5 separate regions of the Homo sapiens genome follow, and regions 2, 3, 4 and 5 are each linked to region 1. The links come from fine-mapping of genetic effects on plasma protein levels. A gene starts in region 1. Each other region holds a variant in brackets. All regions are shown on one strand. Distances are from middle to middle.

Evidence for each region. PIP is the chance, under the fine-mapping model, that this variant and not a neighbour inherited with it causes the effect. Protein levels are from antibody-based Olink assays in UK Biobank. Linkage for the fine-mapping came from a reference panel and not from the study's own genotypes, which makes the PIPs less certain.
Region 2: its variant is fine-mapped to the plasma level of the GSN protein (UK Biobank, PIP above 0.99). The variant lies in the coding sequence of GSN. If it changes the protein, the assay may bind it differently, which can mimic a change of level.
Region 3: its variant is fine-mapped to the plasma level of the GSN protein (UK Biobank, PIP above 0.99).
Region 4: its variant is fine-mapped to the plasma level of the GSN protein (UK Biobank, PIP above 0.99).
Region 5: its variant is fine-mapped to the plasma level of the GSN protein (UK Biobank, PIP 0.92).

Annotation. Positions count from the first base shown.
Region 1 is chr9:121,265,774-121,270,877 of GRCh38, reverse strand. GSN (gelsolin) reads right to left here and starts at 2,716. Exons shown (of 18, transcript NM_198252.3): 1 at 2,659-2,716. RefSeq lists a silencer at 2,529-2,828.
Region 2 is chr9:121,319,502-121,324,605 of GRCh38, reverse strand. GSN (gelsolin) reads right to left here. Exons shown (of 18, transcript NM_198252.3): 11 at 3,205-3,338; 12 at 1-52. Among named protein-coding and RNA genes, the nearest start is that of GSN-AS1, 37 kb to the right of the region's middle. The variant G/A (reference allele first, on the strand shown) is at 3,242.
Region 3 is chr9:120,640,959-120,646,062 of GRCh38, reverse strand. All of the region lies in intron 2 of MEGF9 (multiple EGF like domains 9), which reads left to right. Among named protein-coding and RNA genes, the nearest start is that of CDK5RAP2, 63 kb to the right of the region's middle. The variant G/A (reference allele first, on the strand shown) is at 2,496.
Region 4 is chr9:121,230,838-121,235,941 of GRCh38, reverse strand. It overlaps a transcript of GSN not described here. Among named protein-coding and RNA genes, the nearest start is that of RAB14, 32 kb to the right of the region's middle. The variant G/C (reference allele first, on the strand shown) is at 2,180.
Region 5 is chr9:120,531,202-120,536,305 of GRCh38, reverse strand. All of the region lies in intron 7 of CDK5RAP2 (CDK5 regulatory subunit associated protein 2), which reads left to right. Among named protein-coding and RNA genes, the nearest start is that of CDK5RAP2, 46 kb to the left of the region's middle. The variant A/G (reference allele first, on the strand shown) is at 499.

The DNA.
Region 1 (5,104 bases):
AAAAGTTTTCTTAAAGAAAACCAGAGCTCAGTGTCTCAGCAACGTACCATAGACCAAGCAGAAATCATCTCTATGACCCACATCACAAATGACCCAAACTATTCACATGGAGTAGGGGAAAGTGACCCACTGTCACTGGATGGCTAAAAGTGAAGGCATCCAATCAACGTGTTTGGCAGGAGTGCACACACCATTGTTAACAGTGGCGACCTCTGGGGAAAGAGGCGGGCTTGGAGGGATTCTTTAACAATTTTTGTTTGTTTTAAAACTCATGAAAAAGAAAAAAAAGTTACAATGCTGAATACCTTAGCAACCTTCTCCAGTAGGTCTAGCCTGTTGTCTGCTTTTAGATGAAATTTATAGCAGGTTCTGAGACCTTCAGCTGGGCTTCCAGAATCTGCTGCTCTGACCCATCCCAGTGGCCACTGCTCTAGTTCAGACCTGCAATCTACTTCACTTGAATCATGCAACAGCCTCCTCAGGGCCTTCCTGCCTCCAGATCAGCCTCGTTCAATGCATCCCCTACATCAGCCATTCAGAATAACGAGTTTTTAAAAATCACTGCTCTGTCAAAACCCTTTCTCAGCTCTTCATTGCCTTCAGGATGAGGTCCAAACCCTTAGCTTATAATCTAGTTCCATTTTCATTTAGATTCTCAACCTCCCACCACCCCGCCCTTCTCCCATCCTCCACTCTAGCCACATGGATGGCTCAGAAAATCTCAGTGCCTTTGCACTAGTGGTTCCTGCTTCCCAGAATGTCTTTTCCCCCAACTCCTGTTTCTCCTGGTAAATGATTATTCATTCTGAGGTCTGGCTCACCTAGACAAAATTAGTCACTCCTCTTGCAGGCTGAAGTCACTCTTAATATGGCACAAAAGTGTCAAACAGTATAGATGGCAAGCATCTTGAGGACAGAGAGCTCTGTCCTCTTCCAAGGCTCTTTGGCCCCTCGCAGGGCAAGGCACAGAACACAGGCCCAGAGAAGTGCTGAAAGGAGGGAGGCGGGGAGGAAGGAAATGCCATGCGGGGCAAACCCTGCAGCCACCCCTCCTGGGAGCAGCCTGTTTCCAGGCTCATGTTAGTCCCTAATAAAAGGACTGTGGAAAATTCTGGAGTAAACTTTCCTCCCCTGATTCACACAGAAACCTTCTTTGCTGCTGTGTAACTCACCGAGTGCCAACCCAAGCTCCCCTGGCTGTTTACAATTTCCCTGGCATTTATAAATAGCATGGCCCCAGAAAGAAAAATGGAGTTTCAAAGGAGCTGAAAGCCGACCGTTCCCACCCCCATCCTTCCTCCTCTGTTTCCAAGCCTCTCCCCCTTAACAGCCCCAAGAAACACCAACCAGCACCCCCAAGTGTGTATGTACAGGGAATGCTTGTCCCTTTAGTAAACGGAACACCCAAGAAGGAGGCTAGAGTCCCTCCCAGCAAGGAGTCCGCAAACGGCAGACCGGAATTGGGTCTCAGCCCTACCCTGCCTCACTGTGTGACAATTAGCCCATCATAAACTCTCTGGGTCCTTGACTTTTCTCAACTGTGAAATGGAGGAAATGGAGATGGGGTAAGATTCTAGCAAGCTATGGTCGCTGTAAACGGCAGAGCGGTGAGAGGTCCTGGTGCCCTGGTCAGAAATGTGGTCCTGGGAGAACAGGACACACAGGATTAAGTGTTTGAAAAGTCCCCAGATGCCAAACAAAAGCGAAAGGCACCTCCCCAGAGGCCCCGCCTTCCACAAAGTCCAATTACCCTCAGGACAGCCCAGAATGAGTTCTGGGTGTTTTAAAGCTCCCTTCCATGCTCTGAGGAGGGTGTGAAGACAGGATAAAGCGACAGATGTCTGGGCAGACAAGGAGCTAGGAAGAAAGCCAATGTCTCCTGCTCACCCACACCCCCAGCCCCCAGCCTTCCAAGGACTGGGGCTTCCCCCTGGGCACTGCCCAGACCAGCCAGCCTGCACTGGACCAGAGGGAAGTTGCTGTTATTTAGGTTCTGGGGGGCTGGACCCCAGAAGACATGGGGGCTCAGGGAGAAGGGGTTCCAATCACTGTCTTCAACTCCAGAAGAAGCTTCCGTGTGAGTCAGGGAAGGGAACACTGCAGGGCCGGGGAGAAGCCAGCACCTACAGGTAGCAGGCGCCTGAAGATTTCAGACAGTGTAAGGAAGAACTTTCTAACAGTCCCCAGAAAGAGGAAGCAGCTGGAGAGGAGAGCAGGCACAGGTATCGTCCAGGAGGCAAGGGTCCTCTGAGTGGACTCCCCAGCAGAGTCACCGCCCAGACCGTAGCTGGTGGTCCCCTGCATGCCCGGGTCAGACAACCCAAGTGCAGGGGTGACCCCGGGCCAGTTCCCCCATCCCGGGGGCGGGGTCGAGGTTATTAGCTCAGGTGCTAGCAGCACAGTGGAATCACGGGGTGGAGGCCTGGCCCCTCTCCTCTCCTGCTCCGGCGTCTCCCCATCCCCCAACTCCCATCCACACTCTTTGGTCCCTTGGAAGACGGGAAAAGTGAGCGAGGAAGCCCTTTTCCAGCGATGCCCCCGCGGCCGGGCCGAGCTCCAGGCGCGGGCGAGATAGGACCGGGAAGGAAGGGAGAGGAAGGACTCAAATCAGCCCGGGACCCCCAGATGCCCGGGGCCGGGGCCGCGCGCCTCCCCTACCTGCTGCTGCGGCACTGGAGACAGCGGCTGCTGGGTCCAGCTGCGCTCAGCTGGTTCCGGGCGGCGGGGCGGGGGCGTTGTGGTGCGCGCGGCCGGGGTGGGCAGGGCGCGGGCGGGAGCCGCCCTCGGGGCGGGGCGGCCGGGCAGGCGGGTGGGGGAGGAGCGCCAGGCCCTCCCGTCGGCTGCTGGGCGGGTGGCTCCAAGCTCGCCTTCGTCCAGGGGGACCCCTCGCTTCACCTCGCAGGAAGGCACCAAACCAAGCCCTCTGCTTTCCCCTGGAGGAAACTGAGGCCCGGAGCACGGAGGGGAGATCTGAAGAGGCCTAGGGTCGGGGAGGAGACCCAGGGCAGCTCCTGAGCTGGGCTGGGGCCAAAGAGCTCAGATGGGACGGGCAAGCGAGCAATGCTCAACTAGCACCAGCGGAGGCAGATTTCAGCCCTGGAGAGAACGGACTTCAGGAGGCAAAGCCCTCGAAGAGTGACATAGGCTGCATGCAAAGCAGGGGAGATTCCCTCCCACGGAAGGGAATAAGGAGGAAGAGCGATTCCCAGCTCATTCCGAATGAAGTAACGAAAATGCCAAGTGCATCCCTGGTCCTTAAAGTGGACCATTAAGCAGGCGCCTCGGAGTCAGAAGGCCTGGTTTGGAACCCCAGACATCGACTAGTCCTGTAACTTTGGGCAAGCGAGCTCACATGTCTAAGTCTCCGTTTCCTCGTTTGTCAAATGGGCATCCTGAATTGCCGCTTCATGGGGCGGTTGAGAAGACTCAGTGAGAAAAAGACTCTCAGCACAATGACAGGGACCGTGGCTTCTGCATAAACGGAAGGGATGTTCTTATTAGTGTCATGGCAGATACTGTTTTAGGAGATTGAGGAAATCCACATTGGGTAGAAAGATGAGTGCAAGGTCAATTTTAAGCAAATGTAATACTTTGTTGATTTCAACAACATCTCATATGCATTTGAGACGATAGCCGTTTATAATGCAGCAAGGCATAAGACGGCCTCCCAGCAGTCCTGGTGCACACATGAGTTCCCAGGACTTTTGGAGTTGCCGCGTGACTCCGGTTTGGAAGGATTCACACACTCCACAGGAGACTGCACCACATGACAGAGATGTCCATTCCCAGCCTGGGTGCTGGCAGCAGCCCCATGTTCAGCCAGGGTAAAGCTCCCTCTTAACACAAGGTAAAATGTACTAGAGTCAGTAATTGCCGGGTGCTGGGGATCAGAGCAGAAAAGGCTGTTGTTTAAGTAGCACAGAAGCCAAGAGCACAGTGCTCACTCCCTGGTTTTTCCATTGAATAGCAGCCAGGGAAGCCACAGGACCCAGGGAATCTCACCCTGGCTCTTCCTCCTGCCATTCTCTCTTTGTTCAACACCAGTAAATACAAGAACCATTTCTTGAATGCCTCATGCCATGCTCTGGGCTTCCCACGTATTACCGACTTTAATTCTCACCTCCCTACCTGGCCTCCTAAGGGAGGCATTACCATGTGTATTTTTCAGATGAGCAGGCCAAGCCCACAGAAAGGGTTAAGTACTCTCTGGAGGTCACACTACTGATACTGTGCAGTCTACTCTTCTATGCCTGAGTCCTTGGCCCTCGCTTCTTTGCTCAATGTCTTATGTCACACTCTGCCACCTTTCCTGGCTTGGGAAATTCTGCCCAGTTCCACTTTCTCTGAGAATACAAGCAAGGTATCCACCCCGCAGGGAGGCTCACACCATCTCTGCTACTCTCTGCTTTCTCCAGAGGCTGCCTGGGGCCCAATGCAAGGCTGCTGGGGAGAAAAGCAAAAACACAGGCTTATTTGGCTCTGGAATCTTTGATTACAAGCCCCGGCATACACATGCCTTGGAATTATCTAACATATCATTTCCAGCCCCAGCAACTGCTCTCAGACAAAGGGAGGTGGAACTCTGAATCTGTGTCCCCATAGAACTGGAGAATACCACATCACGATGGAGGAAACATTGGAGAATGTCTGCTCCAACTCCTCCCTTTAGAGATGGAGAAACTGAGGCCAGGAGAGCAAAAGGGTTCACATTCTAAGCTAGATCTAAGGTTCCATATTCTAAGCTGGGTCAGATGCCTACCCATAACCCTGTAATTGCTCCATTTGGTGGCTGGAGAGGAACATGGGAACAGGGTATCACCAGGAATCATTAGAAATGATAATGAAGATAATGATGATGATGATTGATTGATGATGATTGTGATGATGATAACCAATACTTACATGGGAGTGCTCCTCTAGGAACACTTCTAGAAATCTCCTGGTGCTTTGCTTTATGACTCAACATGTGTATTTTATAGCTGGCAGGATATATCAAGTCTGCCTTTCATGGATGCCTAGAAGTCTTCTTGGTATCCTGTCTTCATTCCTTTCTAGATACCTCTTTGTACTTCTCCCCCCATTGGATCTAGGTAAGGTAAGGCCT
Region 2 (5,104 bases), 54 kb before region 1:
AGTCAGGATGGCAGATGCAGCGACCTCATCCTGGGTAGACTGGGCACCCTGCCTGGAAGGGGAAGTGAGATTCAGCATCAGGGTGCACACAGAGCCCTGAGCCTCTCCCTTGCCCTGAGTCTGAGAAACCTACACATCTCCCTGTTACCAGTAATGAAACAGATAGAGAGGGAAGGGGACTCTTTCAGAACAACGAGAGCCAGGAACCACACCAACACTTCCACTCTCAGCCTAGCATCTTGCCCGCTTACAGAGATCTTAGTGCAACGCATGGATTTCCTTATGCTAAATGTGTCCCACAGGAGACTGGCTGGGTCATCCCATGCTGAACAGCCACAGAGAAGATGCTCTGAGACTCAAATCTGAGATGCAGAAAAGTGGCCAGGACATTTCTCTGGGCGGAAAAGCAGGTCGCAGAATAGCAAGTGTTACGAGAGCCTATTTGTGGGAAAAGATGTCAGTGATTAAGCCTCCCATGAACACGTGCAGAGAGGTCTGCACAGATGTTCACCAAAAAGGTCCATGGTGATTGCTCTTAGAGGGAAGATTTAGGGGGATTTTGCCTTTCTATCCCACCTCTTTGCATATTGTCTAAGTTTTCCATAACCAACATATGTCGTCGTATAAGCAAACAAAATCTGACCTATTAATGCGCTGATGCAGCTAATTTTTAAAACAGTCTTCTCACACATTTTGTACCAGGTGAATGTGTTATCTAGTCAAAAAAAAAATTAAGCTGTTTTTAAATGTCTGGGGTTGTCAAATTGAGAGACATTCTACAAAATAACTGACTAGTACCCTTTAAAAGTGTTAAGGGCATGAAAAAAAGGAAAGACCGGGCAACTGCCATAGATTCAGAGACTTTGGAGACATGATGAGTAAATGCCATGTGGGATCCTGGGTTAGATCCTAGATCAGGAAAAGAACAGTAGTGGGGGCCGGGCACGATGGCTCATGCCTGTCATCCCAGCACTTTGGGAGGCCAAGGCAGGCAGATCAGTTGAGGTCAGGAGTTCGAAACCAGCCTGCCCAACATGGTGAAACTCCGTCTCTACTAAAAATACAAAAATTAGTTGGGTGTGTTGGCGCACACCTGTAGTCCCAGATACTCAGGAGGCTGAGGCAGGAGAATTGCTTGAACCTGGGAGGCAGAGGTTGCAGTGAGCCGAGATCATGCCACTGCACTCCAGCCTGGCGACAGAGCAAGACTCTGTCTAAAAAAAAAAAAAAAAAACGGTAATGGGAAAACTGAGGAAATTTAGGTAAAGCCTATAGATTAGTAAGTAGTATTGTGTCAATGTTCACTTCCTGGCTTTGTTAATTGTGCTATGGTTATGTAAGGGTTATGTAAGATGTGAACATAGGTGAATATTCCATTGGGTAATGGATATATGAGAACTGTCTGTACTATTTTTGCAACTTTTCAGCAAGTGTCTAATATTATTTCAAAATAAGTTTAAAAAAAGAAGGAATCCAGCTTGGCGTGGTGGCTCATGCCTATAATCCCAACACTTTGGGAGGCTGGGGCAGGCAGATCGCTTAGAGGAGTTCGAGACCAGCCTGGGCAACATGGCAAAGCCCCATCCATACTAAAGTATAAAAAGTAGCCGGGTGTGGTGGTGAGTAGTGGCAAGTAGTCCCAGCTACTCAGGAGGCTGAGGCACGATAATTGCTTGAGCCCCGGGGGGCAGAGGTTGTGGTGAGCAGAGATCGTACCACTGCACTACAGCCTGGCCAACAGAGCAAGACCCTGTCTCAAAAAAAAAAAAAAATCCAACAGTCAATAATCAGACAAAAAGTTTTAGACTGTATAGTAAGAGAAATACAAGTTAAAAATACACTGAGACACCATTTTATAAACCATAAGATTGGCAAACGCCCAAAAGTTTGACCACACAATCCACGAGTGTGACTATAGGGAACCAGGGACTCTCACAGGTTGCTTGGTGGGAATGTAAAATGCTACGAACACTATCGAGGGAAATTGGGGGCTATCTACCAAAATGACAAGTGCAGTTACTCTTTGACCCAGCAATCTGACTTCTGGGAACTTACTCTAGAGGCATGTCTCTGCATGTTCAAAGTGATGTTTGTTTAAGGTTACTAATCACAGCAATGTTTGTAATAGAGAAAGACTGGAATCAACCCAAGTATGCATCATCAAGGAATTTGTTAAATAAACTATAGTACAGCCACCCAAAGGACTATTATGCAACTGTAAAAAAGAATGAGAAAGCTCTCTGTCTCTATGTACTGACATTATTGATCTCTAGGAAGAATGGAGTCAGAAAAGCAAGGTGCAGGGCAATATACAAAGTATGCTACCTTTTGTGTAAGGAAGGGAGGGACCAGGCTATAAATTATTTGCATATGTATTTTTTTTCACGAAGAGTTACTGGAAGGATATGCAAGAGAGTAAAGCAGTTACCCAAGAAGGGGTGGGGTCTGGAGAATGGGGTAGAGAGGGACAGGGGTGGGAATAAGATTTCTCAATAAATACCTTTATATTCTGTTTTGATTTTTGAACCATGTAAATGTATTCTCTGTTTTAAAATAATTTTGGGGCTGGGTGTGGTGGCTCACTCCTGTAACCCCAGCACTTTGGGAGGCTGAGGCAGATGGATCATCTGAGGTCAGGAGTTCGAGACCAGCCTGGTCAACATAGTGAAACCCCGTCTTTACTAAAAATACAAAAAATTAGCCAGGCATGGTGGTGGGTGCCTGTAATCCCAGCTACTAGAGAGGCTGAGGCAGGAGAATTGCTTGAACTTGGGAGGCAGAGGTTGCAGTGAGCGAGACCGCACCACTGCACTCCAGCCTAGGCAACAAGAGAAAAACTCTGTCTCAAAATAAATAAATAAATAAATAAATAAACAAATATAAATTTAAAAAAATTTTGGCTTGAAAAATATGTGTGGGAGGATAAACCCTAGTGTGCCTAGTACTTGTCATGGATTTGTGGGAGATGTTCTGTTTGTTTCTCCACATTCACTATATCCTACAATAGATGTATAATCATTTGGTAAGAAGAGTTTCAAAGTTGTTTGGAGAAATAAGCAAATGGTGTTGCCCTGTGGACAAAAGCCTCTCCCAGCAGGGAGTGGTGGTCCCACCTCAGGCCCTCACACCCTCAGTTTGTCTTCAGCCCTGCTCAGGGCCCAGCCAGTACCCCCACGACACACACCAATGGCCCCAGAACCTCACCAGTTATAGATTATCTGCCCCTGGCGGCCACCATGGC[G/A]GTAGTTGTACAGAATGATGTAGCTGTCGCCTCCATAGAACTGTCCATATGTGGCAGGGTCCACGGGCACCTTGTTGGAACCTTCGATTCTCCAGATCTGCAGGAGCAAAGCTGGAGTCAGATGCTGTGCAGCACCCCCACCCCCCAGCTCAGGCAAGCCAGGAAACCGCAGTGTGGTAGGTTGTGGTTAGGCCATGGGATGAACTTTTAATCACTTGGGCTCGGACTGGAGTTAAATGGTTTGCCCAACTCACAGAGCCACTAGAAGGCAGGGCTGGGACTCTGGGTCAGGGTTCCTGCCTGGGCTCCTCATACCATGCCCTGCCCCAGCCCGTCTGTCCTTCGCTGAGGATCGTCAAGGCAGCTCCAAAGGAATGCAGTACAGTGAGGGGAGGAGCCAGACACAGACCCCAAATCAGGCCCCTCATCCCCTTCCGGGCCATGAGACCTCAGACAACTGGCTTAACCACTCTTAGCCTCAGTTTTCCCATCTGAAAAATGGGGATAATCATAGTACCTACCTCAAAGTACTGTGAGGCTCAAACGAGATTACTCGTGAAAGTCTAGCACAGGGCCCGGCACAAAGGGACTGCTCTGTAGGTGGCAGCTGCTCTTATTGTCATAATTATTATTATTATCTTACTAATATCACCATTACCTCTATTGTTACTGAGCTGCCTGGATTCTTTCTTTTTTTCTTTTTTTTTTTTTTGTTTTTTGAGACGAGGTTTCACTCTTGTTGCCCAGGCTAGAATGCAATGACGCAATCTCGGCTCACTGCAACATCTGCCTCCCGGGTTCAATCAATTTTTCTGTCTCAGCCTCCCGAGTAGCTGGGATTACAGGTGCCTGCCACCATGGCCAGCTAAGTTTTGTATTTTTAGTAGAGACGGGGTTTCACCATGTTGGCCAGGCTGGTCTCGAACTCCTGACCTCAGGTGATCCACCCGCCTCGGCCACCCAAAGTGCTGGGATTACAGGCGTGAGCCACTGTGCTGGGCCTGCCAGGAATTTCATAGGTCACCTGCAGAGGCAGGGACACCACGAGGCAACCTCAGTGTGACCCCTGCTGGCAGGTCTCCGCAGCGTTCTGGTGACACTGCTTTTTCCAAGTGGTCACGAGGCCCGGCAGCGCCACCTGGTGGAGCTATGGAGACACGGAGTCGTCCAAGTCCTGGGAAACAGAATCCTAGAATCTCTGGATTTTGAACATTCTTGAAGGTGATGGAGTGGGATGAAACCCCACTTTACAAGTGAGAAAGTGAAGCTCAAAGAGGTTATGTAACTTGCCCAAAGTCTCACAGTCAGGCTGCCAGGGGTCTTACCACACCGCCCCACCCGAAATATTTTCATTGCATTCTCCCTAGCCACTGAAGCAACAAATGAATGCTAGCACCAAACCAAAAACAATAATATATAAAAATGAACACTTTGTTATTCCTATCATTAGGAACGGAGTCAAGTTTGCCTGAGGCGGATTCTACCTCCTAAACACCTCTGAACCCCACACCCCTCTTCCCCTTCTCCACTGTGACCTTCTTAGTCTCAAGGTCATCATCTTTCCCCTACAGTATTAGAACAAGCTCCTTATAAGCTCTCTACCTTCATTTTCCTGCCTCCAATCCATTTTCTTAGTTTTCTTTTTATTTTTCTTTTATTTATTTTTTAACTGATTTTTTTCTTCTAATGATATCCTGGAGTCATATTCCAACCCATTTTCACAGTGAGTTTCTAAAGCAGGTGGCCGGGCGCAGTGGCTCATGCCTGTAATTCCAACACTTTGGGGGGCCGAGGCAGGAGGATTGCTTGAGCCCAGGAGTTTGAAATTAGCCCGGGCAACATAGCGAGACCCTGTCTCTATTA
Region 3 (5,104 bases), 620 kb after region 1:
TAGTTTGTATTTCTAAGTTGAACTTATGGAAATGCTTAGGCACAAAGTTCCTTCTCAGGCCCACACCCTCTCCCTGTGCTTACCATTCTTCCTTTGTTGCAGGCTGCAGGAATTGAATCTGCTTTCCTATGCTCCAGCAATTGCTACCACCCACTGTATCCCATGGGATTTTTATTCCTGCATTAGCCTTGCTGCTGAGTGTCAAGCAGTGTCCCCATATCCACATTCTTTCTGCATTACTGAAAAGAAATCCAAAGGCCCTTTACCTTTTAAGAGTTTTTAAAACTGTTAATCTTTATAAGGAGGCCTTTGAGGGTAGCAAACAATAGATATTGGAAAGTTGAAAGCTTATATAATTGACAAACTTTACTTCTTTTATTTTTCCAATTAATTGCTCTGGCCCTCATATGCCTAAATAGCATAAAGTCAAGTACTCTCTCCTCTTGATGCAACACATTATCAACAGGTAACTAATTGTCCTATAACTCTAGGGGTCAGTCCTCCTGTGATGCTAGGTATAAAAGGAATGTGATTCTGATCAGTTCACTAATCCTACTGTTTCTCACTGCTACCTGGAATTGTTGGGGTGAAGCCTGGTCCCTGAACAACCTAATGGATGGATGATGCTTGCTCACAACTGTGATGATGCTTTAACTGGTCCAGATCCTTGCAGAGGCAGCAGTGATTCTTTAAGGGAGGATGAACCCAATCCCTTAATGCCACATTCTTTCAAGGATGCTCTAAATTAGGTCTCCTAGGTTCTAGATCTTAACAATCAGCTCCTTCAGTTTATATATGCAGCCACATCTCATTGTGTAAGCCGGTCCCAAGAGTACTTTTTGAGGACATTTTGTAGAATCTTTTCACTAACAAACCTCAAACTTTCTTCCCTCCCCAGGGCTTAAGCGCCTTTCTTTAGTCACTCAAAATATAAAGAGTCTTGTTAAACCCTTATCTCAGGACAGTAGGGCCTGTTCATGCTATACTTATGTAACTAAAGGAAACCCAACTTAAATGATTTTTCACAGTCAGGAGGATCTGCTTCAGGGTTATTTTCCTACCTCTACCCAAATGGCAAAGCAATTGCACACTTCTCTTGCTAAAGAAGAAAGGAACTACAAATTTAATCTTTATAAACATCTCTCTTATAGGGCATTTTACTATACTTAATGTGTTTTAAAACCTTACGAACATGTAGTGTTTTCCTGTCTGTAGTTTGACTTCCTTCTGAGACAAAAATACCACACAACTTGACAAATGCTTCTGACATTATTACTACCACTATCAACTCCAGAATGAACAGCACTAACATTTACCGACTGTTTACTATGTGCCAGGGTAAGTGCTTTATATTTACTGTCTTGTAAGGATAAAATAACAGTTAATTGAAGGTGATATATTCTATTTTACAGATGAAGAAACTGAGGCTTAATTTGCCCCAAAACAGACAACTAATAAGTGGCAGAAACTGGCTCAAATTAATATCTGTCTGACTATCCTGCCTTCAGTGGGTCCTAGTGTTTGTTAATTGGTTGGCCGAACCACTGCTTATTTTCAGTAAGCCTGATAGCCATCCTTTAAGTTTAGCTATCATACAAACAGATTCCTAGCATTAAAAATTATCCTCTGTGTGATCAAGGTAACATCACTAGCAATATGTCATGAATATTATGTATCCCTAATGTGATGAGATGAGAAAGATACATTACATTTGTGATAGTCTTCCTCAAAATTCATAACCTCATTCTAATTGTGACAAGAGATCAGACAAACCCAAATTGAGGGAAATTTCACAAAATACTTGTCAAGTTCCCTTAAAAGCTTCAAGGTCATAAGAGACAAGAAAAGACTGAGAAACTGTCAGATTGGAAGAGGCTGCGGAGACATGACGAGTAAATGCGAGACAATATCCTAGATTGGATTCTGGAACCGAAAAAATGGATACTGGTAGAAAAATTAGGGAAATCTGAGTAGTTAATAGTATTGTGCCATTGTTAATTTCTCCTTTTTGATAAATATGTCCTGATTACATACGAAGTTAAACAGGCCGAGCCTCATGGTGCCTCACACCTCTTATCCCAGCACTTTGGGAGGCCAAGGCAGGAGGATCGCTTGAGCCCATGAGTTTGAGACTAGCCTGGGCAACATAAGGAGACCCCATCTCTACAACAGATTACACAATTAGTCAAGCATGCTTGTAGTCCCAGCTACTTGGTGGTGCATGCATGTAGTCCCAGCTACTTGGGAGGCTGAAGTAGGAGGATCGCGTGAGCCCAGGAGGTCAAGGCTATAGTGAGCCATGATGGCACCAGTCTGGGCAACAGAGCTAGATCCTGTCTCAAAAAAAAAAAGAAAAAAAAAAGAAACATTAGTGGAAGCTGGATGAATGGTAGATTAGAACTTCCTGTACTATCTTTGCAACTCCTCTTTAAATCTAATATTATTTCAAAATAGAAAGTTAATAAAATTGTTATTTGAAGCAGTCATTCAAGGGA[G/A]TATAGACAGTATTATTTATTTGAGGGCAAAGTTGGTCCTTATGGTAATTCTTAGCCTTAAGTACAGAAGAGAAATTAGGATAAGGAAATAAACTTACTTTGTTGACCTGCCATTTTAGATGTATGACATTGTGGTTAGAATGTACAATCAAATTCATAGCCTATTTTAATGTTCTTTTTTCTCTGCAGTTTAAAATGAATAGCTTCTAAGACTCATGTTAGTAGACTTAGGCTAAAATAGAAGGCCTCTTGTTCCCACAGAGAAGGCTTTGTCTTCCTCTCTATTCCCTGAAAGAAAATTAAATCAGCATGACTTTTTCCATCTCAGATTTTTTTTTTTTCATAGCAAGAAATATGTTTCCTAGAGGATGGAGATAAATATGGGACTGTTCAGCTTTTTTTCCTCCCTGGATGTGATTTCTTCTCAAAATACCTAAATTTGTCAATCCTAGAGGGAGACTTGGACTTGAAGTTTCTTTAGATTTTCCATAAAAAGGGACACAAATGCTTCAGCCATGATTATTTTGACATAGTATATAGGACTAGTTTAAAAATTATAAATTCCATTATTATGGCTTTGTGTAGATTAAATGAATATTCTGGTGTGATATATTTTGTGTGTTTCAACAATTTGGGGTTTTCAATTTAGTTTTTCAGTTTGGGGTTTTCTACATACACTACAGAAGGAACATAGGCATGTTTCTCACATTGCCAAAAGCAGTAATGCAAGTATGGCTTATATTGTCAATAACAAAATCTCTTCCTTCTCTTTTGCCAGTTTCCAACACATATACCATGACCATTACTTTAATTAAGTTTTACTTTTGCTGGCCTTGAATTGATTTTCAAAGGGTTCTGCAATTGAATAGAATGTCCATTAAAACAGATATTGTGGATATTTGAAGGAAACATTTTTACAGAGAAATATATTAGCTTTCTTGACTAACATGTTCACCGAAAGAAGCTGCATAATCCAGGAGAGGCAGCAGGAGGAACAGAAGGAAATTAACATTCATTGAACACTTTAAACCTCCATTCTTGATGTTTTACACATAAAACCTCTCTGACTTCTCAGACAACTCATCCATTTTGTTCTTAGCAGCTAAATTACTTAGCGACATGGCATAACTAATAAATGGCAGAACTTAGATTTGAGCCCAGATCTGTCCGGCTCCAAGTCTCTTCCCACTGTACCCTGAAATAGAATAGGCAAAATTAGATATGGCAGTGTGAGCATCTCAATGTAAGTGCAAGGCTAGCTGTGGGTGAGTATGACTCATCAGTTTAGGTACTGGCCTATGGAAATATAAATCTAGAAATCAGACCTGGGCTACAATGAAAATAAATACTGAACAGAAGGCAACAATAAAAATTGTTAAGAGTATACATACAGAATCATTGGAAAGGAAAAGGCAGGAATTAGGGCATTAGAAATATTTAAAGCTAGGTCTGTGGTTTGGGTGTCAGAACATCTGACTTGCTTGGGTTTAAGTTAAAAGGCAGGCATTTGATATGTGAGAAGTCTGAAAGCAAGTGTCATGGACCTAGTCATTGTGGTGGAAAGTGGAGAGGCAGGGCCACTGAGACCAGGAGCCAGGCATTGAGAAACTAGGGACAATAGTTGTAATTAATCATTAGGAATATAGGGGACTGAGGACAAAGGAACCAGTAGCAAATGGGACTTGACAGACCGCTGAGGTTGATTGCCTTAAGTACCCTCTTCTTAGGTTAGAATTGATACCAAATTCAGGGTTCATCACTATGCCTGGAAGTGGAAAGTAAGTAGCTTTACCAGTCAGGGATAGGGATATAAAAAATAGAGTGAAATAAGTACAGTTAATTTAGTAGAGTAGTTCTCTAATTATGGTCCCCAGACCAGCAATATCAGTTTAACCTGGAAATTGCTTAGAAATGCAAATTCCTAGGCCCAACACCAGACCTATTGAATAAAAAAGTCTGGGATAGGGCCCAAGAATCAGCATGCTAAAGTTTCAGAACCACTGATCTATGTTGGTGGCTCTGAGTGTGTTGTCCTCAAAACCTAAGGTCAACTTATGCAGATGCAAACTAGAACTAAGAAAGAAGGGTTTTTTTTGAGGCATTTCAACCTCTATTCTTTGTTTTTATGAGAATTGTATAAGCTAAAGAGGCCCTATTCAGTAGGGTCATGATGGAATATTGGGGTTGAGCAAAATGGATTTTTCTTTGAGGGCTAGGACTTTTTCTTTCTATCTGCTCTTCTTTATCTTACTTTAATGAACAAACCTGAGGGATCACTGTCTTACAAGGTTGATTGGCCTATCATGGGCTAGTCATTGAATGTCTCATTTTGCTCACCTAGAATGAATATTCTATTTCCAAGATTCTAAGAGGTTTATTTAAGTGTGACATAAAGTGTCAAGATTAAGTGCATGCTATTCACAATAGCAAAGACATGGAATTAATCCTGATGTCCATAAATTGTAGAATGGATAAAGAAAATGTGGTACATATACACCATGGAATACTATGCAGCTGTAAAAAAGAACAAAATCATATCTGTTGCAGCAACATGGATACAGATGGAGGCCATTATCCTCGGCAAGTTAATGCAGGAACAGAAAACCAAA
Region 4 (5,104 bases), 35 kb after region 1:
GACCCTCAAGGAAATAAGAGCTATTTGGAATATGTGGCCGAGACTGCTAGGTGTTCACCAAAAGGCTTTCCATTCTACTTTTTTGCCTAAGTATAATAGGAGCCAGGCACATGGCTGTCCCCCTAGACTGTCTTTGCCAGCCTTGCTTGTGTTTAGGGTGGCCAGGTGCCTGAATTCTCACCAGGGGAATGAAGTGGGAGTCACGTGTCATTTCCGGGCCTGGGTTCTAAGATAACCAGCAAGCTTTCTCCACTGTCTTCTTTCCCACCAGCCAGAACCCAGCTGCACCGATGCAGAAGAGAACACTGCCCTGGGGAAGAATGAGCGACAAAGAACCAAAGCTGCCCTTCTGCTCTGGGCCACTCACCTCAAGGGGAAATAGGCTACTCTAGTTTGCCTTTTTATTACAGGAGCTTAGCTTTTCCTCCAAGTGATCCATGATTCTTGAGCTGGACAGGGAGAGAGGCACTGAGAATCCTAATTGTCTTCCAGAATAGGAACGACCAGCCCTTGGAAGACAGTGGCTAAGCACATAATCTCTTTGGGTAATCTGGGACTTTGGACAAGCTGAAGCTAAAATTCTCAGCCACCTAAAAGGGAGATGAAAGATGTGGAAACCAGTAGGGTGGCTGCTTCTGAAAGCATCAGGTATCTTGATTTAGGATAAGGACAAGCTCACGTCTTGAGATGTTTGCCACAAGGCACAAAGTGAAACTCACGACTTTTCTCTGGCCAGATGGAAACTGTTCACTGGGGCCATGGGTGCGAGATTGCTAAAGCCAAACTCGGATTCGGGGAGTTGCTGAATTTCAGTGACAGCCAACGGCATGACTTTGCCAGGTTTCCTTTAGGAAAGGATGGTGATATCTGGGGCTTGCGAGAGAACTTGGAGAATTCCTACCCACTAACCATCTTGGTCTGCAGCCTTTCCTCTGCGCCTCCCTCTCATGGAGAAGGAAGGAAGCTAACACTCTTCCTTCTGCCCCACACCTCCCTGTTTCTCAGCTGGGAACTAACTCCATCTGGAACAGCCAAATTGTTCTCATGGCAATGTCCTACATTTATTTATTTAACTATTTAATTTATTTGTTTAGAGACGGGGTCTCACACTGTTGCTCAGTCTAGTGTATGGTGATGCAATCATAGCTCACTGCAGACTTTAACTCCTGGGCTTAAGCGATCTTCCAGCCTTGGCCTCCCAAAGTGCTCGGATTACAGGTATGAGGCACCATGCCCAACCCTACATTTATTTTTTATCTGGATTTGCTTTCCCTGCCCTTCGTGCCTCCACCAGCACCACAGCCTGAGGGCTTATAGAAGCTTTTACCTAGTCATCGTATGTCACACGATGCTCCCTCTTATCAAGGAATTCACTTCATGGCAAAAGTGGCAGTGACTTAAGGCCTGTGGGATTCACTCTTCACCTAACAGACCCCACCCATGACCCAGGAGCAGCTGGCTCCTATAGCACAGTAGAATGGCCTTGTGGAGGCTCACAGTGCCCATGGGGAGATAACTGCTTGCTCCCCTCCGGAAGGGATCGGTGCTGTGAGTCAGCATCCCATATGTGATGCCATTTCCTGTGTCTCTCTATTACTTTTCAAGATGTAGCAGTGAGGCAGGCACTGCAAAGTGTCTCCCAATAGCCTTTCTTACTAGAAGTAGTAGAATTTAGAGCTGGGTGCATGGCCACCCAAAATCAAGATACCATTTTCCAGTCTCCCTTGCAGCTAGGCACGGCCGTGAGATACATATTAACCAATGGAATACAAGAAGAAGCCACATGTGGTGGCTTTAAATAACCTTCTACAGGAGAAAGCACCCTTTGTGTTTGCATCCCTTCCTCTGTCCTATTGCCTGAAGTGTCATCTTGACCCACGAGGCTTAGGTCATGCATTGCATAAAAAAAGCATAAAGAACCAGGGTCCCTGACATCTTAGAGCACTATTCCAGTCTGGATCACTTACCCAGACTTTTGTGAGAGAAAGAAACTTTCGATTTGTTCAAGGCATTATTGTCTGGGGTTTTCTGTTGCTCAGTGAAGGCAAACTGAATTCCAATCGAAACAATTGCTTCAGGAACGAAGGGGTGGAATTGCTCAAGGTGACACCTAACATCTGCTCTCCAAATGTTAGACTTCCTGTCCTGAGACTCTAGGCCTTGCTAGCTATAGGTTTTA[G/C]GGTCTCTTTTGGCTATCTGTTGCTGTACAACAAACCACTCCAAAACTTTGTGGCTTTAAATAGTAAAATATTGTTATCTCTCATGGTTCTATGAGTTGGCTGGGCTCAGCTCAGTGGTTCTTGCTTGGAGTCTCTTACGAGGTTGCAGCCAGTTGCTAGGTGGGGTTGGAACCATCTGAAGGTTTAACTGGACTGGACATCAAAGATGGCATCTTTATTTGACCTCCTGTGCCTCAGTGGTCTTATTCTGTGTGCCTGGCAGAATAGCCTGGATATTTATTTATTTATTTATTTATTTAGATGGAGTCTCGCTCTGTCACCCAGGCTAGAGTGCAGTGGCGTGATCTCAGCTCACTGCAACCTCCACCTCCTGGGTTCAAGAGATTCTCCTGCCTCAGCCTCCTGAATAGCTGGGATTACAGGTGCATGCTACCACGCCCGACTAATTTTTTGTATTTTTAGTAGAGACGGGGTTTCACCATGTTAATCAGGCTGGTCTTGAACTCCTGACCTTGTGATCCACCTGCCTCAGTCTCCCTAAGTATTGGGATTACAGGCATGAGCCACCGCGCCTGGCTTGCCTGGACTTCTTATGTGGCAGCTCTGGGCTCCAAGAGGGAGGAAGAGGAGGTTGTTAGTCTTATTAAAGGCCTACCTCAGAGCTGACAGAGAGCATCACTTCTACCACATATTGTTGGTTAAGCAGTCTCAGGCCAACCCAGTATTCAAGGGCTGAGGAAACACATTTCACCTCTCAACAGAGAAGTGATAGGGAATTTGTAGCCGTCTTTAATCCACCACAAAGCCCAAGGGATGAAAACTTCTATCAGGGGACTCAACAATGGTTCCTCTGAATTGTAAGCTGAGAGTGCCATCGAGCCACTTTGTCTCCTCAGCCACAAAGCAAACATCAAGGAAAGCGGAGGTTCTTGAAAGGAAGTACCCATGAGTCTCTACTTCTATGATCCATGGAGTTTTGGTTTCCGGCCTGCCTGAGACCTAACTGTTGCCTTTCCTTTGGCAGAGTTCTTCCAATCAATTTCACAAACACAAATACTTTTTATTTTCTTGGCTCAGGATAGCAAGATTGAATAAGCTCCATAGATCTGCTGTACAATATTACATCTATAGTCGATGATACCATATCGTACACTTGAAAATTTGTTAAATGGGTAGTCCTCATGTTACGTGTTCTAATCACAATAAAATATATTTTTTAAAAAGGTTGCAAAATTGGAGTCTGCCCCTTAACTGATACGTTCATCCCTATCATGCATACACACATGGCTTTTTACTTATGTAACTCTGCCAAGAGTGCCTGAGGCTGTGAAAAAGGGATAACTGACTAACCAGCCCCACCAGATAAATCAGAAGCCTGGCTTTAATCTATACAGACTAATAATTTTTGCAATCATAGTGAGGGCCCTAAGGTGTCAAGAAGATTTTCAATCACATTTCCTAGATTTCCTCATTACATAAATGTTTCCTAAGATCCCACCAGATGCCACACCCTGTGCTCAGCACTGGACAGTCATGAAGCAGGTCCAGTCCCTGACCTCAAGGAAAACCAGTCTACATTGTACCACATTATAACAAGTTAGGTTTGGGATTATCAAATCTTCTGGTCTCTCCCATCACTTCCTCCCATATTAATCTGGAATAGCTGCAAATGCTTTTATATACATATATATATTTGAGACAGAGTCTCGCTCTGTCACCCAGGCTGGAGTGCAGTGGCATAATCTCAGTTCACTTCAACCTCCGCCTCCTGGGTTCAGGCAATTCTCCTGCCTCAGATTCCCAAGTAGCTGGATTTACAGGCACCCGCCACCATGACTGGCTAATTTTTATATTTTTAGTAGACACGGGGTTTCACCATGTAGGCCAGGCTGGTCTCAAACTCCTGAGACCGCTTTGGCACCCCAAAGTGCTGGGATTACAGGTGTGAGCTACTGCACCTGGCCTGCTTTTATATTTTTAAGATTAAAATTTTTTCCCATCTTTCCCTTCTCTCTCTCTTTTTCATGATTCCCCATCTTTAAAACAATAGAAGCCTGCCTGCTACATCACCACGAGAGCTCATACTGTAGGACTCTGTGGTCACTCTGTTGAAAATTTGCAGCACTTTCTCTTCCCTCTTCCCAGCTCTCAGTTGAATTGGCTGGAGTTCTGATACCCACTGACATTACTGTTATTTTGTTTTTTGTTTTTTCTTCTTCTTCTTCAAAATCATGTCTGAAGTTAATTACAGCTTCAAAGGGCTTTTCTGGTCAGTTTCTTCAGTTGAGGCAGTTGGTTCTGGGCTGGCTCGGTCTCCGCTACCTTCACCCAGTTCTTATTTGAAGTGTAGAGTCCTTGGTAGATAATATTAACCTAAGGCTTTCACGAGTTATCAAAGATAGAGAAGAAGGAAATCCTTTACAAGGATAGAAAAGAAGAAAAAGAAATCCAAAGTCACCTGCTTTCCTCCCAATGACATTTTCCATGGAAGGAATGCCGTTTGCTGATGAGAGTACTCTTCCACCTTCACAAGGCTCTGCAGCATTGTGGAGCGTTTTTCACAGCGAGCTCTTCTTTCTCCTTCTAAACAGTGTGACCTATGGAAAAGGACAAACATGGAGGTCAGAGAGTGCCTGATGGAATCCCAGCTTTGCTTCTCGTTGGCCCTGGACTGCCAATTGATCATGTACTAAAGGAGGAGTATAGCGATGCTTACCCTTTGGTTTTAGCGTTAGGAATGTGATTACCCTGCACGTAGTAGGTGCTCATGAAATCCATTGAGTGATGCTGTGAAGTTTGCAGTGAAGAGATTATGAACCCTGATTTACGTGTGAATAAAATGAAGTTCACGAGAGTGGGAGTAGGACTTATCCTAGGTCACAGAGGGTGGGCGAGGGTCTTTAAGAATCTAAATCTATTGTTTT
Region 5 (5,104 bases), 730 kb after region 1:
CCTTTTATTCTCTTTTATCCCTCCCTTCTCCCCATGTTTCCCATAGGACTTGAGTGACTAATGGGAACAAGTCCAACACAGTTAGATAGAAAACTAGGGATAAAATCAGGAGGAAGAGAAAAGGAATAGCATAGTCATATGAGGTCAGAGATTGTCTACTGATAGACATTCATGCTAAAAAGTTCCACTCAGATACTAAAGTTAGCATTTGATTTTGCCCATGAGCTTCCTGGGAGCCAAAGGAAAAAGGGTAGAGACAAGATTTACATTGCAAATGAGGTAAAACAAGCTAGTAACTCAGGAGAAGCCCAGTTTTACTTGGCACTATCAGAGGAAATTTCTCTTGTGGTTCTTCCCAAAGTGAACAGTGAGTGACTGCCCCCACAAGAAATAACAGTGAATTTCGTGTGACTTATATTCCATTATATCTTTTAATGCAGCCCAAGGCCCAAATGAGTACAGGGCAAGGTGTCAAAAATAAAACAGTGTAGACCAAAT[A/G]CAGAGCTCTTTGATGATCCACGATAAAATGGGTGCCTTCTAGTTTATTGGGTAGTTGATATGTCCTTTAGGCAGTCTTTAGTGCCCATCATATTTTGCAACGAAATTTTTGGTAAAAACTTGTCAGGAGAAAGTTGAGTTTATTCCTTACCATAAACCTTACATTATGATACTCTTGCCTTATTTGGCAGTCACTAAATGGAAGGTTAACTAAATATAAGTCCAACTGCTGGCTAACCTGTGACCTATCTGTTGAAGAGCCGAGCTTGTTTGGAATTTGATAGAAATTGTTCTAAAGCAAATGATCTGTTTCGGAGGATACTGACTGGCTCCTTTTTCTTGGTCATTTGGTGCCTGCCCTCTGCACTGACTAGCACTACTGTGTTGTTTAGGTGCTTGGCCTAACTGCCGGGTTCCTCAACTCTTGTCTGCTTTTACTTCTGCCTTGGTACCACCTGTGGAGATTGGAGTCTGCTGCTTGGAAAATCAGATGAGCAAATCCTAATCTTTGGGATAGGATTATCTGTAAAAGAAAAGTAAATAGACCCAGAGGGAGAGCCCATGCCTCCATGTAAGTGCCCTAGCTTCAGCATTTGGAGGTGCGAGCATTTATTTGGTGCTCTGCAATCTTTTCTTAGCTTTGATCTGGAAAATGAAAGTTTTATGATTAATAATTTCAAGGTGAGTGAGGAAACTGGGTTCCCCATGGACCTCAGTGGAATGAATATATATCATCTCAGTTTACCCATTTGACACCTTGTGTTTTTCTTGACTTCATGGCTAGGAAGAGAAACTTCCCTGGGAAGTGCCCTCCTACTGAGCCTCCCCCCAGAGTACTGGCCTTTCCAGGCATCACCCATGGAGCCACTAGACTGTGAGAATTCCACAGAATCATTTCCGTGTTCCCTTGTATCTCTCCCAACCCATCAGCAGTGAAGCCCTTAGAAGGCTTATGGGCTTGTCTTCCTGGGGGAGCTACAGGTCTGGAGCAGTTAAACTGGGAGTAGGGGACCCAGGGAATAGAGTATGTGAGCAGCCACCAAAGAAGAAAAGACTGGCAGAATTCCTGGCGCCTGTGAAGGGGAAGGAGAGGGTTTGGGATAGGTTTGAAAAGAGGTCCTGGGACAGAATGAATAGAAAAGGCCCTCTGAGGGTCCTGACAGATGCTGAGCAGTCAGTTAATTGGTTCTATTGGATCTTTATGCCTTTTATTCAAAAAATATCACCTGAGCATCTTCTACTCAGCACAGTGGTGATGAGAATGTAAGAAGGAGTGATACAGCCTGGGTTCCTCTCCCCAGGAATCTCATTGTTTGAGTTGAAGCTTATCATCCAGCAGGGTGGGAGGGGTGGAGGGAGGAGCAGGATGATAAGGGCTAAGTAGGATCAATGCTGGGTTAACATATATCTAATTCAGTTTAGAGGGATTAGGAAAAGCTTCCCGGGAGAAGTACTAGGAAGAGGAAGAATTACTTGGACAGAGAAAGGAAAGTAAAGGAACAGTGCGAGTGGAAGTCCAGAGGCAAGAAGGAACATGGCAGGATGCAGGTACAGGAGGGTGCATAGCCTGGCCTGAGTGCTGTGTTCTGGAAAGGAGTGGGGAAGAGGTGAGGAGAGGGAAGCTGGGGAGGTGACATGGACCTTATTGAAGAATTTGAGTTTTATCCTAAAGGCATACAAGAAGCCACTGAAGAGTTAAAGGTGGGGCTTCAGGGAATGACAAGATCAGATTTAAATTTAGAAAGGTCTTTCTGCCTGCCCTTGGGGAATGGATTGACACTGGGGCTGGGTAGAAGACTGGTTCTCAGGCTGATGCAGAAATCCAGGAAAGAGCTGATGGTGACCAAAGTGGAGGTGACAGAGCTGGGAATGGAGGAGAACAGGCTAGAAGGTAGAGTGGATGTGATGGGCTTGAAGGGCTTGGTGACTGACTGGATCTGGGGGATAAGGGGAAAAGCTACAGTGACACACCCTTGCCCAGGCATTTTTTTTTTTTTTTTTTTTTTTTTTAGATGGAGTCTTAACTCTGTCCTCCAGGCTAGAGTGCAGTGGCGTGATCTTGGCTTACTGCAACCTCAGCTTCCCAGGTTCAGGTGATTCTCTTACCTCAGCCTCCTGAGCAGCTGGGATTACAGTTGCCCGCCACCAAAAAAGCCTGGCTAATTTTTGTATTTTTAGTGGAGACAGCGTTTCACCATGTTGGCCAGGCTGGTCTTGAACACCTGACCTCAGGTGATTTGCCGGCCTCTCAAAGTGCTGGGATTACAGACATGAGCCACTGTGCCTGGCCCTTGCCCAGGTTTTGAACATGAGCAGCTGTGGGGTGGTGCAATTTATTGAATTTTGTTGGGGGAAAAGGAAAAAGAGGAAATGTTTTTGGGTGGAGGGAGAGGGAAGATGATACCTTCAGTTGGCACATGTTGGGTTTGAGGGCCTGTGAGCTTCAGTGAGTAGAGTCTAGGATGTGGTTGGGTGTATGAATTAAAGCTTGAATTAGAGGAAGTATAGATTCATTCCTTAACCAACTACTGAGTGTGGCCTTGGGAATGCGTGCTGGGAATGCAGGGCTGAACGTTGTCCTGCTTCTATGGTGCTCTCAGTGTGGGAGGGGATAGATGTTAAAAAAAATATATGTCGTGATTGATGCCGTGATAGAGGTGAGCCCAGGGTTCCGTGCTGTGACAAAAGCAAGGTGTGATCAGCTCTGCCTGGGCGTGGAATGGGGAGGGCTTGTCAGACAAGGAGTCCTGCGAGTTGGGTGAGGACGCTTTGCCTAGCAGAGAGAACAGCACGTAAAGGTACAGAGCCTGGCACATTTTAAGGTGATCCTAGAGGAGAGTGGTCCTGTTAGCATGTGCCACAGAAGCTTAATTGCTCATCTTTTTTTGGAAGGGGGACTTTGGGAAGGGTTAACGTGTATCAAGTACTTACTGTGTTCTAGGTGGTAGAGTCTCCATGGATGTCGGATCAGAGCTTTGCTAAAGGCGGCATCTTCCTGGGATTTCCCATAGGTCTGACTGGAGAGGCACCAAAACCCAACATGTCAGTCCTATGAATGCAGCTGTCTCTCAGGGATAGCTGTGTCCCAGGCGCACTCCCAGAGATCAGTGCAGCAGTCAGATGCCAGCTCTGGATTTTTGCTCAGGGTGTGGCCCTCTTTGTGGTGAAACCTTCCTGGGTGTGTAGGATCAGCGTGTTCCCTCCCTGAAGGCAGGCCTGCCTAGGAAGCTAAGTCAAGGTCAGATGGTTAGCAGAAAACTGGAGCCAGAGTCCTTGGTTTTGCCCTGGTGAGACGGATCCAGATCTGCGACACAGATTGACTCACTGTTGGGCAGGGCAAGGTATTGAATCTTTAGGGCCCAGGGACCCCTCACGTGGATGGACTCTGCCAATATCTTTCTGGGCTCCCACCACCCTTTTTAAAGGTGCATGCTTTAGCTACTTTATTGTCTTCAATCTGGCCTTTGAGCTGCTCTGTGTCTTTAAGGCAGTTAATACTGGGAAGTCCTGCAGATCAAATATGCCAACAGATATGATCTGTTTGGCTTACAGTATTTTTTAAAGTGTGAATTAGTTGCCAGTATGTAAAAAATTGAATTTCATGCAGAAGTCTGGATTTCCACCTTCTGTTTAAAACCTAGGAGATTGGCAGCCCTGGGTATCATCTTGCTGGATTGAGGCTACCCCTCCCCTTAGATGGGCTTGGTGCTCCAGCTTGGCCACAGGAGTCCCCACCAGGCCTGCCTACTTTTTCTTTTCTCTATGTAGAACTTGCTTTAAGGTAACTAAAAAAAAAAAAAAATTCAGTTTTATTGGTGTATAAATTACATACAACACAGTGCTTCAATTTTAAGTGTATATAGTTCGGTGACTACCTCTCCCATTGATTATGTGACGATTTCAAAGTTGAGCCCCTAGAGGGCAATCTTACACCTCTTTCCAGGTTTTCTGGGGCATTGCACTGGTGCTGCCTGGCACCTTGTCTCCTAGTGCATTGCTAGGTGCTTTAGTTACCTTTGTCTCCCTCTTTACCTTCATCCCAGGAAGCTGTGCTTCACTAGGGCAGCTCTGTCTGACTGCAAAATCTTTCTTCTTTCTCCCAAACTAAGTTGCTTTCTTGGTTTAGCTGCAGAAAGGCTATTCTGAGGGTCTTCTGACAAAATGCTAATTGTTACATGTTAAAAAAAAAAAGTAATAATTATAACAACTGTCATTTGTTGAGTTCCACCATATTCCAGGAGCAGTGCAAGATTGTTTTAAATAGCTTGTCTCTGGTCCACAATCACAAGTCACCCCTATTTTGTAGCTGAGGAGGCACAGGCTCAGAGAGATGGAATTACTTGCCATGGCCAAGGGGCAGTTGATATGGGATAATTTGGTAATTATATTGTGTTATTTGATAACACAGCCCAGAGAGGGATGTGTTCAGCTGTTCCTGAGTGGGGCACTAGGGGTGCAGGTAGCAAAGCTTCCTGGAGGGGAGCTTAATTAGCTTTGGCAGGATGAATGGGTGTTTGTCAGGTAGAGGTGGGGGTGAGGCGGGGGTAGGGTGGGGAAGGGCATTTTAGGTAGAAGGAATAGCACGAGCAAAGGTGTAGAGGCATGA